3 separate regions of the Homo sapiens genome follow, and regions 1 and 2 are each reported to be linked to region 3. The links are microRNA targets in miRTarBase. Many come from high-throughput screens and were not tested one by one. Region 3 holds a microRNA gene; each other region holds the end of a gene's coding sequence.

Region 1 (3,000 bases), not on the chromosome of region 3:
TCAAATTGGGACCACCAGGCAGGAATCAGGCGCACGGGTTCCTCCTCTGTGGCTTCCTGTGGCACTCCAAGTGGGAAGAAGAGAAGCTTGGAAGTGAAAGCCTCAGCTTCTCCTTTCTTCAGCCCCTCAAGCCTCAGAAAGATCTGTCAAGCGCGGCCCGCCTCTACAGAGGCCCTGGGGAGATGGTCTAGACCTTGAAATATCCTAGAAGAGGTTTGACAGGTTGGAGCTTTTGCTAGACAGATGGATCACAGATGGGCTTAAGGGGTGGAGGGTGTGTGTGTGTTTGTGAGAGAGAGAGAGAGAGAGAGAGAGAGAGAGAGAGAGATTGCCAGGTGAGGAAGGTGATGAGCTGAAACCAACTTGGAGCTATGCTGTATTATGATGATGAGGATTTGGGTTGGGGGGTGTTACAGGCTCTAACCAGAAATCTGGAAGATGTGATAGGTGGGGCCTTTAAAAAAAAAAAAAACCCTAAACATCTCTTTGTAATCCATCCCTCCTCTGCATCCCTACCGCTACTGCCGCCATCCCCTCTCACTCAAATCTTGCAATAGCCTTTGAAAGGCGCCGCCTGACTCCAGACTGCTGACCACTAGATCAGCACAGCAGCCAGTGGAGTTAGAGCCTTTAACTCACTGTGTTCATCCCTCGCTTAAAACTTTCAGTGACTCCCTTTCACCTCCCCTGCAGGATAAAGCCCAAGCTCCTTGGCATGACTTATGGGCGCAGTGTGATCTGGCTCTGTCTGCCCCTCCAGCCTCATCTTACCATTGCCCCCATCTCACTCTACCCTCCGCTGTGCCTAATGCACTTCTGCCAGGTCCTCTGAATAAGCCTCTCCTTTGCCTGTGGTTCCCTTTGCCTTGGAGCATTTTCTGTCCTTCGCTTCTCCTGGCAGATTCCTACTATGTGTCATGTCTCTACCTAGAAGTCACTTCACCTATGAGCTCCCATAGAGGATCCTGTATTTCTCTTATTTTAATAATGCCTAGCATTATTGAGCATTTATTGTCTAAGTGCTTTACAAATGGTAACTCATTCAGCCTCACAACCACCTTTTTTTGAAGTAAACACCGTTAATATCCTCTCAATCTTACAGATTCAGAAACCGAGGCACAGTTGCCCAAGAACACACAGCTGGTAAGTGGTAGACATGGAATTTGAATGCAGGCAGTCCGGCTCCTGAGCCCAGAGTCCTAATCTCTGTGCCAACTGGCTGATGTAGCATGCTATATGGGGTAGGAGGCTGGGGTTAAGAATCAGCAGGTGATGGGTGGACAGGCAGGACAAATTAGATGGGGATTAAAATGAAAGTGGTGACAAGCAAAACTGTTGCCAAGACTGCAGGTGACAACTGAGAGAGTGAAGGCCAGGCACGGTGGCTCATGCCTGTAATCCCAGCACTTTGGGAGGCCAGAGTGGGAGAGAGTGAGTGGAGATGGACCGCTGCCATAGTGATGGGGTAAGGAGAAGGCCTCTAGGGGTATACGATGACTAAGTGCAGATAAGGCTACTGATGTCAAAACAGGGGTATAGGTGGGACTCATAGCGGACAGACGGAGGTCAGATTGGAGGACTTGATGAAGGAACCAGGCTGGCAGGTTGTGGAGGTGATGGCAGTTATAGAGGTCAAGGGGAGAGTAGCTCAGGACTGTGAGCTTGCAGCCCCAGGGGGAATGCAGTGGCTCTGAGTGCAGATCCCAGGGGTGTTCTAGCAGCAGCAACAGCAGCTGAGGAGCTGGGCTCTGGCCCTCCACCCCGGTGCCCACCTCTGCACTGTTGATGCCGCAGCCCCTCTTGGCCCCTCATCCCCAGCTAGGCACCCCCAGAAAGAGCTCCGTGCAGACAGCAAAGCTCACACCCCCATCTGCAGGGCCCTTTGCAAGTCTTCAGCCTTCTAGGTAAAAATCTAAACACTTTTTGGAAAGTTTTATTTGAAAACTTGGGGACAGGACAGAGACAGCAGGATGGAGACTGTATTCTCCTGCTAGGGTTCTTAGGTCAAAAGCCAGGCTCGGGTCCCTCCCGTCTCTAAGTTCCAGGTCCACTCCAGTCTGTGGACTCCTGAGGAATATACCCACCCACCCACTGTCAGGCCCTTACCCCTCCCCCACCGCCCACTTCCTGTGCCTGAGGAGACACTGAGGCGTGGGGGTAGACTATGAGGGAGCGGGGGTGGGGAGGATCTGGTTAAACTCCAGAAGAAGGAAGTGAGAACCTGGGAGTTTGGGGGCTAAGAGGAACAGATAGAAAAAAGAAATAAGGAGGGGGCTACTGTCTTTGCCTCCTCCATCACGAAAGCTTTGCCCTGAGATGTCTCCCTTGAAGCTCAGATAGGAAGTCCGGGGTAGATCACATCCTGTGACTTGGCAATGGCGCCCGTCTTTGGGTGCTGGTTGGGAAACAGTCATGCCCCTGCTACGGGGGGCTGGGGCAGTGCACGCCCCGCTGTGCCAGGCCCTCCATCTCAGCTGGCTGCAGGCTGGCTGTTGGCATAGGCCTGATCCGGGAAGGAGGCCCGGGCCCTGCGGGTCTGGGCACATACTGAGGCATAGAGCTCCGGCTCGGGGCCCGAGGCCTGGGACTTTGGCTCAGAGTCCAGCACCACCTCCGAGTACTTGACGGGGGTTCCAGGACCGGGGATCCGACCCTGAGGAGGCCGCAGCTGCAGGCTGGTATAGCACATCACCTCCTCTGCAGCCTGGAGATGCAAGGCTGTTAGAAGTTCACTGGACCCTCGGAAAAGCCCGAAAAGCCCCCCACTTCCTTCCCTCCCCCTTTTCTCCAGCCACAGTTGACTCACCCTGGCAGGGCCTCCAAGAGTTGGATCCTGCTGGTCTGGCTCTGGGTCTTGAGACAGCCGTCCTGGGACGGGGAACAGGAATCTGGTCAGCAACTTGTCCTTCCTCCTGCACGCCCCCATCCCAGCCACCCAGGACCTGGCCTCTGTGCCCCTCCTCTCTGCCAGCTCCCTACCTGTCTGTAGATAATGCAGGT
Region 2 (3,000 bases), not on the chromosome of region 3:
ACGGGGAACAGGCAAAGGCAGCCAAGTCACAGGCCCCTGCCTTTCCCCAGGCCAAGCACTGGGCCAGGCTCACTGTGGGGCAGGGGGAGGTTCATGTACCCAAATGCACACAGCCCAGTTTCCATGCCCAGGAAGCCACAGACATCGAGAGACAGCCACACAGACACCCTCGTCCCACCACAAGGCAGAATATGGCATGGGCCAGGAGAAGTCCCAAGGGCTGGGAGGACCTGGTGGTGGGTTTCATGGAGATACGTAATATCTCAGCCAGGCTTCAAAGATCAGGAAGATTCAGGCAGGGAGAGCAGCCCAGGCAGGGGCCACATGAGCAGAGGAGCACAGCTAAGGGTAAACTGAAAGGCCACTGCCACTGCCCGCGGTGGGGAGGATGTGGCTGGGGGGATGGGAGAGTCAACACCTGGGAAGGCCTGGAGTAGAAAGCGGCATTGCCGCTGATTCCCATGCAGGGAGGCTGCCCTTCCCCCAGGGCACCGCCTTTGCCACTCAGGGTCCAGCTCCCCAGCCCCTACCCCAGTGGTGACAGACTGGCAGGCCTCCAAGTCCAATCTGCACCTTGTCAAAGACACCCTGTCGTAGAGAGTGGGAAGACCTTTTCCCAAGCAATGGCTCAGCCCCAGCCACACGTGCTCACCTAGCCGTGGCCAATCCGTACCTCCATGCTCACTCCACCATCCGGGCCTCCACTCCACAGGGGAGGGCCCTGGGCCCAGAGAGGCCACCCGAGTTGCCAGGGTCTCCTGGCTGACCAGAGCTTTGGGTTTCAACCAAACTACAGTGCCCTGCGCACCCTGCACTCCATCCTGGGAAAGCCTCTCTGGGTTCCCGGGACAGCCTGGGCCCACCGTCCACCCTGGCCTCATACCCAAGCACCGTCATCCTGCGTGGTCCAGTCTCTGAGACCCTCACCACCTCTCCCCTACACCCACTCCTTGTCTCTTCCCACTAAAGATGGGGCTGTGGCCCCCTGATCCACACCCCAATCCCCTCTCCCAGCTTCTCCATTCCCTTCTCCACCCACCACCCCAAATCCCCAGCCCTGACCCCTTCTTAAGCATTTTTCTTGTCAAACATGGAGATCCAGACCCACCCCTGGAGGCCACAGATCCCCTCCTTCCTGTCTGCTCCTCTCTCCTCCACTGCCCCTGCCCCCCACCCCCTACTCCAATTGGCCTCAGCCCTCTCTAAGTCAACTCCAAACCAGAGCTCCCATAGCCCTGCTCCCACATCCTGAGAGGCTCCCACAGCCTCCAGGGCACAGCCCAAGCTCCTTTGCGCTCCCAACCCCACCCCTGGACTTGCCCTTCCCAACCTCATTTCCGACCCCATCCAAGGTGGCCAGATCCAACCCATGTGCTGCCTCTGAGCTTTCGCCCTTGAGGCTACCCTACCTAGTTAGTACACCCACAACCCCAAGCCCCAGGGACCTGCCCAGCCTCATCACTGTGGCTGAGGACAGTCACCTGCACTTGGACACGTAGGTCCAATAAGTGGTTCCTGAAGAAAGGAATCCCAACTCCCAAGCTCAAGTGGCACTTCTTCCAGTAAGGCTGCCTGGATTGCTCCCAGTGGGAGCAACCATCCTCTCTCCAGTAGAGCTGTCTCAGGAACCTGCGTGCATACCAAGGGTTTGCTCTTGAGCTCCTGGGCTCAGCAGCCAGGCCCCTTCAGTCGGAGGCCACACCCTGCCAGTTTTGGTGCCCTGCTCCAGGGGACACTCCTCTGATGATCAGCTGTGGGCAGGGCTGAGCGTTGGGGTGGCCCATCTGTGGGGCCCTCCTCTGGTCATTCAGGGGCAGGTAAGGTGACGCCAGCACAGATGGCGGGCGGCTCTGGGAAGAGGCAGGCGGGAAATCCGACCCTCCTGACAGGCAAGCGGGGACCTGAAAGGTGGTATCCGCCTGAGCTGGGAGACAAATGAGGAGAGTGATGGGGACCCAGGCCAGGGATACAAGCAAGCAGAAGGCCACCAGCATCTATGACAAAAGTGTTTAATGCTCCATAATGTGCAGCTTCTAAGTGAAAAAGGCCCGTTAATCATCCACGGGCCGTACATTCTCATGACAGAGCAGCCGCCCTCCTCGGCCCCCCAAGAGGGAGGCATAGGCAGGGAGTGGGCCCTGTGAGGCACGGTCCTGAGTGTGCCCGCCAGGAACGCACACGTGTTAGTGCCCACATGAAACAGGGGTGGGGCGTGACATTTACACAGGAGAGAACCACAGACACCCATGTGAGGAGACACGAGGGGCACAGGTGACCATGGGCCAGGGAACACCCCAGTCCATGCATGGCTGAATCCACGAGGAGCGCGAGCTGGATGGTGGGAGTCACGCGGTAACGGGCTCAGGTCTCCTAGGAGCAGAACAGGCCCAGGTCCTCAGGAGACCTCGTGCCCAGGGCAGCGGGACAGACCTGAGCCTGCCCATGAGAACTTGAGTGTGCAAACCTGCGCACAGGTGTGAGAACAGACTCCAGGGCGAGTGTTTAAGGAGAAGACACAGACACACATAAGACCCACTAGTGGGAATGTGGAGACCCCAGGAAAGGTGGGGAGGCCCAGAGCAGCAAGTAGAGGGGAGTGGGCACTCTGTCCCGGGACTCCCATAGGCTCGGCAGGGCCAGAGACAGCCTTGGGGGTGAGAGGCCAGAGCCAAGGGCCCTGCATCTGAGAGTCCAAGGGTCTAGGAAGGCTCAGGGTGGGAGGGCCCAGCTTCACCATAGACACCAGGGTCCACGCTGGCTTGGGGAGAAGGTGCAGGTATCAGATGAGCCTCAGGCCTCACTGCTGCTGGGGCAGCCTCTGCTGCTGCCGCACTCCACCCACACGAGGCGGGCCTGCTCCTGCAGGATGCGGCCGCGCACCACCTTGGCCAGCTCCTCTGCGTGTCCCCACTCATGGGCGGGCACCTGCACCCAGGAGCAGGGCAGCCCCCAGAGCACCTGCTCTGAGCCACGGCACTGCCGCAGCAGCTCTGAGTCCCG
Region 3 (7,195 bases):
TCGAGGAGGCCACTCTTGCCATGATGCCATCTTGCGAAGAGTCCAAGAATTCAAAATTCAAACCTGGTAGAGGGTAGAACATTCTTTATTGAATCATTTGCTGTTTTGATTTATAACTTTATAAAAAAGCTATTTTTTATAGACCTTAAAGACATTATATTCCAGGACATACAGCCATTGTAACCAGCTAAGAGTTCGTGGGGCACTCACTTAATTCTCCCGTCTGTAAATGGAGGGCTGGCTAGAATATTGGTTTCCAGATTTACCTAATCATTAGAGTTACTAGAGACTTTTAAAAATGTTCCTGATTCCCAGGTTCCCCCTGCCTAGCGATGGCGTTTCAGTAGGACTGGGTAAGAGCTGGTAATGGTTATGTTTTCAGTGCTCCGCAGGGATATTGATGATCAGTAATGGCTACTCCGCTAGATGGACTTCAGTGTCTTTCGCTTGCTATTTATTTATTTATTTACTTACTTACTTTTTTGAGATGGAGTTTCGCTCTTTCATCTAGGCTGGAGTGAAGTGGTGTGATCTTGACTCACTGCAACCTCCGCCCCCCAGATTCAAGCGATTCTTCTGCCTCAGCCTCCCAAGTAGCTGGGATTACAGGCATGCGCCACCATGCCTGGCTAATTTTTGTATTTTTAGTAGAGGTGGGGTTTCGCTATCTTGGCCAGGCTGGTCTTGAACTCCTGACCTCAGGTGATCCACCCACCTCAGCCTCCCGAAGTGCTGGGATTACAGGTGTGAGCCACCACACCCGGTCTCTCTTTTTATTTAATCTTCACTTCAAAGATCCTTTTTTAGTACGTGTAGAAATCAGGGGCTAGTGTTCATCTGAAGAGATTTTGTATAATAGGCATCTGTTTGAATTTATTTTTTAATTTTTTGGAGACAAGGTCTTGCTCTGTTGCCTAGACTGGAGAGCAGTGGTGCAGTCATAACCTTGACCTCCTGGGCTCAAGTCATCCACCGCCTCAGCCTTCTGAGTAGCTGGAACTACAGACACCCACCACCATGCTCAGCTAATTTTTAAAAATGTTTTTACAGACCGGGTTTTACTATGTTGCCCAGGCTGGTCTTGACCTCCTGGCTTCAAGCAGGCCTCTCACTTTGTCTCTCGAGTAGCTGGGATGACAGGCACGTGCTCCCACACCCAGCAACTCAATATCTTTTACAATCTGTGCTTTGCCAAGTTGGCGTACACACTAACACAGAGAGGCAGTTTACACAGAAAGTTCATTACCTTGACTCTGCGCTGTGTTGTCAGGTTCCAAGTGTGAGTGAATGTTAAGATAGGAAGAAAAGAGCCAGCAGATAGATGGATGTGTGTCTGAAAGAAAGGGGAGGTCGGCTGGCAAATGGCCAGGAGCTGTGTGCTGGGGGGAGCCCATGGGAACTCGATATGGGTTAAGGCTGGTCCCCTCTGCGTCCACGGAAATTCCACCAAGTAGCTGGTGCCTTCTGCATTCAAGGTGTTTGTTGTTAAAGAGGAGAAAATCTTTCAGACATGTACAGGGTATTTTCTGAAGACACAGGTATTCAGTCAATGGTATTCTAATTCTGGAGATATAGGAATACGCCAAAGAAAGAAACCCCAGATAATGACAGATCATGTTTTTGTTTTTTGTTTTTCTTTCCTCTGGCAGTCCCCCTTTTCTTTAGAAACAAAAAAAAATGTTGGTGAAAAGAATAATGAAGTTGACATGTTGCAGGATACGTTTTGCCATCATCACCTCTGAAGAGCTCCTAACTCCAACTCATTCTCCAAGGAAATCTCGACATTTACACTCTGGTCAAATGGACTTTCTCCACTTGTTCATGATGAAACAAAAATGTATATCAACTTTTCACTTGGGAAATTAAAAGTGGAGTAAAGTGAAGTTCCAAGTTTCAAGTCACCCCATGAGTGGGAGCGAGAGGGTCAGGACTCCAAGCAGGGTTTCCCAGGAACGATTTCACCGTGTTCAACTTCAGCATCTCTGCAAGAGAAAACACCGCCTTTAGTTTTTCTGGAGCTGAAGTTTTACACTTGGCATATTACTTTTTAGTTCCTTTAGGATAAAACCCGCACAGGTGACCTTGGTGACAAAGCCCCTCACAGCAGTCCCTCCTCTACCCTTGGAGGGGCTGCCGACCACGTGAGTGTTCTGTTTGGCTGTAGTGCCCTCATGCTTCTCTGCCCTTGCTGATGTGGTTCCCTCTCTCTGACATGCTCTTTTCCTTTGCCTTCCTGTGCAGGGCTCACCAGCCCAGACTGGAGCGCAGATTGATCCTGGGGAGCAGCCCGACCAGCGTGCCAGGGGCAGGGTCAGATGCCAGGGCAGGGCTGTGCCCGCATAGCCCTGTGTCTGGCTCTCTGGCAGGACATTGGTCGTGCTGTGTCATGATGTTTACGTACACTTCTGTCTTCTCACACTGGCCTGGGAGCCACCTGGTTTCAGGGACTGTGTTTTATCTATCTTCAGGGCCCTGCTGCCTAGCCTCATGCCTGGCACTCCTGGGTCCCTTCTCTGTGTTTTATGAAGCCTAGGTTTGTGGGTTTTATGTGAGGTGTCTGCACACAACGTGCCGCAATGCCGTTCCAGGGTCCCTCATGTGCAGTGGACATGGCAAAAGGGCAGTGGGGACCATAACAGACTGTGCCTCCCTGTCCCTCCCCTGCCCACTCCACCCGCCCCAATCTGCAGCGCAGCTGGAGCATCCTTGTGCCGCGTTCTCTTGTGATGTCCTAACGGCTGTTGTATTAAGCAGAGCTTTCATGTGTTTATTTATTATCAAAAACATCAGCTCTGCAGACACTTAGTCCACCAGCAGCATCATCCCTCACTCTACAAGGATAAAAAGAGAGAGGAAAAAGGATGCATGGGGAAAAAAACCCATCAGGGGGTTCATCTCGCCCCACACCCTTACTGCAGGGTTCCACACCTGCCAGTCTTCCTCCCCCAGATTCGAGTTCGCTTCCCCTAAGGCTCCCTGGATTAAGCTTCACACATCCCGACGGGGCTTCATGAGACTGGGAATGAATCTGGAAACAGGCTTTTGCCGGCTTTTTACGATTTACGGCACTTTGCTCCCACCTCCTCCTTCCTCCCCGTGTTTCTTTACCCCTCCACTGTTTTCAGCGTCCTCCCCCTGAGACAAATCATTCTGCCAGGTTCTCTGCCTGCCTAGTGAACTAAACAGTAACGGCTTTGCGCCCCAAGCCCCACCTCTGATGAAATAGCAACTCAAACACTGTGGGTCCAGCAACTGTGGGACTTTAAACTGGGCTTAAGGAAGGTGGCCAGACATTTATGCCTACATACAGACAGGTGTGTGTATGCGCACATCTCCGCCTTTGGCCCACTGTTGGCTTCTTCCTGATTTTAACACAACTTTTAATTTTATTTTATTCATGTTTTTGAAATGGAGTCTCACTCTGTCACTCAGGCTGGAGTGCAGTGGTGCAGTCATGGTTCATTGCGGCCTCAACTTCCCAGTCTCAGGAGATCCTCCCACCTTAGCCTCCTGGGTAGCTGGGACCACAGGCACGTGCCACCACACCCAGCTAATTTTTGTATTTTTTTTTTCTTTTTGGAGAGACGGGATTTCACCGTGTTGTCCAGGCTGGTCTCAAACTCCTGGGTTCAAGTGATCCTCCCGCCTTGGCCTCGCAAAGTACTGGGATTACAGGCGTGAGCCATACTGCCTGGACAACTTCTTTTTTGTTTTTAAAGAAACTGTAAAGAGGCCAAAGATTTAGGACAAAGGAGCTCATTACCATCTTTGGAAATAACTTTTTTTTTTTTTGAGACGGAGTCCCGTTCTGTCGCCCAGGCTGGAGTGCAGTGGCGCGATCTCGGCTCACTGCAAGCCACCTGCCCTGGGTTCACGCCATTCTCCTGCCTCAGCCTCCCAAGTAGCTGGGACTACAGGTGCCCGCCACCACGCCCCGCTAATTTTTTTGTATTTTCAGTAGAGATGGGGTTTCACTGTGTTAGCCAGGATGGCCTCTATCTCCTGACCTCGTGATCTGCCCGCCTCGGCCTCCCAAAGTGCTGGGATTACAGGCGTGACCACCGCGCCCGGCCGGAAATAACTTTTTGAGGGAAGATCTTCTCTTTGTATTTGAAAATGTGTCAGTAATAGTCTTTACTAGTTGGAGTGGGGAAGAAAGCTTTTAATTTCACTTTTGAATTGTTGATTACACTGGTTCCCTCCACTCCCTTGCCCCCATCTTTATTCTGTTTTTTGTTTGTTTATTTTTCTTCACTTTTTAGTAGGAGAGTCTTCTTTAAAAACAAATTCCCTAGGGCTGGGTGCTGTGGCTCACGCCTGTAATCCCAGCACTTTGGGAGGCAGAGATGGGCGGATCACAAGGTCAGGAGATCAAGACCATCCTGGCTAACACGGTGAAACCCCGTCACTACTAAAAATACAAAAAAAAAAAAAAAAGCCGGGCGTGGTGGCGGGCGCCTGTAGTCCCAGCTACTTGGGAGGCTGAGGCAGGGGAATGGTGTGACCCCACGAGGCGGAGCTTGCAGTGAGCAGAGAGTGCACCACTGCACTCCAGCCTGGGCGACAGAGCGAGACTCCATCTCGAAAAAAAAAAGAAAGAAAGAAAACTAGGTGAATAGTAACGAGTTTATTAGCCACAACCTATTTGTAATGTCATTCCTGAGAATTTGCAAATAGCCCTGGAGGTTACACTAGGAAGTTTCTTGAGTTGACATCCTTGATCATAGTCTTTTATTAGCAGGATATAATAGAACTATAAGCTCAGACCACCTTAGCATTTAACAATGATCTATCATAAAACTGCAATTTGGAGAGGTGGATGTGTATTACACACCCCTCGTTTAAAAAACATCAACAAAGCAAAACATGCTGCTCTTTTTAATTGTGACTCATCTCAGTTATGAAGAAATTAATTCTTAAGAAAGAATACGGTGTCTTAGTTCGTTTTCTATAACTTATAACAAAATAGCTGAAACTGGGTAGTTTATAAAGAACCTTTTCTTTATTTCTTACAGTTGTGGAGGCTGGGAAGTCCAAGGTGGAGGGGCTGCATCTAGTGAGAACCTTCTTGCTGTGGGGAACTCTTTCTGCAGAGTCCTGAGGCATTGTGGGGCATCACATGGCTGGGGGGCTGAGCGTGCTCATGTGCTAGCTTAGGTCTCCCTTCCTCTTAAAAAACCACCAGCCCACTCCTGTGATGACCCATTAATCCACAAATGGGTTAATCTATTCATAAGGGCAGAACCCTTGTGATTCAGTCACCTCTAAAAGGCCCCACCTCACAATACTGCCACATTAGGGATTGCATTTCAGTGTGAGTTTTGGAGGAAACAAATATTCATACCATAGCACAGAGTTGTCCTTATTATGCACACTGATAGAGATGATCAGAAAATAAGAAATTATGTTTAAAAACACACATACAATGAACCACAAACACCCTAATTCATTCCCAACATATGAGTGCTTGAAAGATGTTTTCTTCCATTGGAATGTGCCTGGTTATCTGAAGCCTGAGTGTGACCTGAGCCAACCATGTGACAACGTTAATTACTGATGTGCAAAAATTAAAGAACACTCAATTCTGCACCATCATCTCTGAATGTGGGCACTTTCCCAGAATGATGAGGAACATTATACAGTATGAGTTCAATCCCCCTAAGTCTGACAGTGAACTGAAATTAGATGGTTGTTCAAAACAGACTTCCCTCTCTGTTTTTCATCTTACTATTTTCATCTCATCTTTTTCTTTTACAATTGGCTTCCCACTTTCTAAATAAATGTTGCCATACCCCAGTAGCTTTAGTGCAATGCCTAGGATCATTTTGGCCTGTGTTCCTGATGCTTCATTATCTCGTTTGAATGAAAGAGCAGCACTGGGTCCTCCAATTTCAGTAGGTGCTATTCAGGGCACCTGTTGGCTTGACATGGTCATGGGTTTGAGTTGTGAAATATGGACCCTTCCATGTGGGTATCAGCACAGAGAAAGCACAGGACATTAGTGGTAGGAAAGAAAAAAGAAACAATACCTTTCCCCTAGATTCCAGTGCATTATTTTGTTTCCCTTCCACTTACTTATCCTCATATAAATGCAAGTGTTCAGAGCTAGAAACCTCAAAGATGCTTCCTGAATTCAAGCCCAGCGTCTTCAATCTGGGGCACAGAGTATGTGAAGGAAGCTGCAGGATACACCCCAGCAGTTCTGTGTCATTAACAGTATTTCATACAGGAATAGCTTCTAAATTCACCTTGTAAGCATCCACAGTGAATCTGAAACAAGCTTTCTGAGATTTCCCTTTCTAAGGTGATTTGGTGTATGTGGGTTCTCACATCAGTGAAGCTAGGAAATCCAAGCTACAAGAGTTAATCTCTGTTTCAAGGCGGGTAAACACCTTAATGTTTTCTGAGACTCCTGGTGCTAATTTTCATGTTTAAAATGCCCACAGAAATATATATTACCCTTTGACAAAAAGTTACCAAAAGATTCAAAGAAGGAAATGACAGTATTCCTTTAAATGTGTTAGTGTTTCAAAGTCTTGCTAAGAAATAGTAGAAGAAGTATTACTAATACTACTTGCTAAGAAATATTAGTTGCTAATACTATTATACTTGCTAAGAAATGTTATTTTTTTCATATTCTTATCCTGAGAGGAGTAATGGGTTGGCCATGTAGCCTTAAATCTTTATCCTTAGGACACCCTGGATCTTAACCTTTAAAAATCAGACTTATTATCAAATAAATGTATTCAGCCTAGATAAATTTAAAATGGGCACGGAAGCCACGAAGTTATCAGCTCTGAAGTATCTAAAGTTGAACCCTTTCCCATGACCTAAGATTCTCAGTAATTTAGTAATAAATGACTTACCAGTGGTTCTCAAACTTGGCTGCACGTTTGAATCACTGGAGAAACTATAAAGAACTTGTTACGCCTAGGCCACGCCGCAGGCCAATCAAATCATAATCTCCAAAAATGTTCCAGTTATTAGTACATTTGGAACTCCTCAGATAATTCTAGCACGTATCTGAGCTTGAGACCCATTGGATTAGGCCGTTCCTGCATTGCTATACAGAAATACCTGAGCCTGGGTAATTTATAGGAAAAGAGGTTTAATTGGCTCACAGTTCTGCAGGCTGTACAGGAAGCATAGTGCTGGCATCTGCTCGGCTTTTAGGGAGACCTCAGGAAACTTACAC

What was found. Region 3 holds the annotated microRNA hsa-miR-4481 (GGAGUGGGCUGGUGGUU, at 5,177-5,193, opposite strand). A microRNA usually pairs through its seed, bases 2 to 8, with sites in the 3' UTR of a target mRNA and lowers its output. Matches are read on the target gene's strand: a 7mer-m8 pairs with bases 2 to 8, a 7mer-A1 pairs with bases 2 to 7 and ends in A, and an 8mer does both.
Region 1: miRTarBase lists SIT1 as a target of hsa-miR-4481. The part of its 3' UTR that is shown has no 7-base or 8-base seed match.
Region 2: miRTarBase lists CARD10 as a target of hsa-miR-4481. Seed matches in the 3' UTR shown: 7mer-m8 at 2,595-2,601 and 7mer-m8 at 2,130-2,136.

What each region holds. Positions count from the first base shown.
Region 1 is chr9:35,647,378-35,650,377 of GRCh38, forward strand. It overlaps SIT1 (signaling threshold regulating transmembrane adaptor 1), which reads right to left. Exons shown (of 5, transcript NM_014450.3): 3 at 2,980-3,000; 4 at 2,807-2,868; 5 at 1,918-2,704. The coding sequence ends at 2,471. LOC101926948 (a long non-coding RNA gene) reads left to right here. Exons shown (of 2, transcript NR_135130.1): 2 at 1-99. Among named protein-coding and RNA genes, the nearest start is that of SIT1, 2.1 kb to the right of the region's middle. RefSeq lists an enhancer at 2,305-2,354.
Region 2 is chr22:37,488,369-37,491,368 of GRCh38, forward strand. CARD10 (caspase recruitment domain family member 10) reads right to left here. Exons shown (of 20, transcript NM_014550.4): 20 at 1,994-3,000. The coding sequence ends at 2,791. Among named protein-coding and RNA genes, the nearest start is that of MFNG, 3.5 kb to the left of the region's middle.
Region 3 is chr10:12,648,005-12,655,199 of GRCh38, forward strand. MIR4481 (microRNA 4481) reads right to left here and starts at 5,193; the gene lies at 5,134-5,193. All of the region lies in intron 2 of CAMK1D (calcium/calmodulin dependent protein kinase ID), which reads left to right.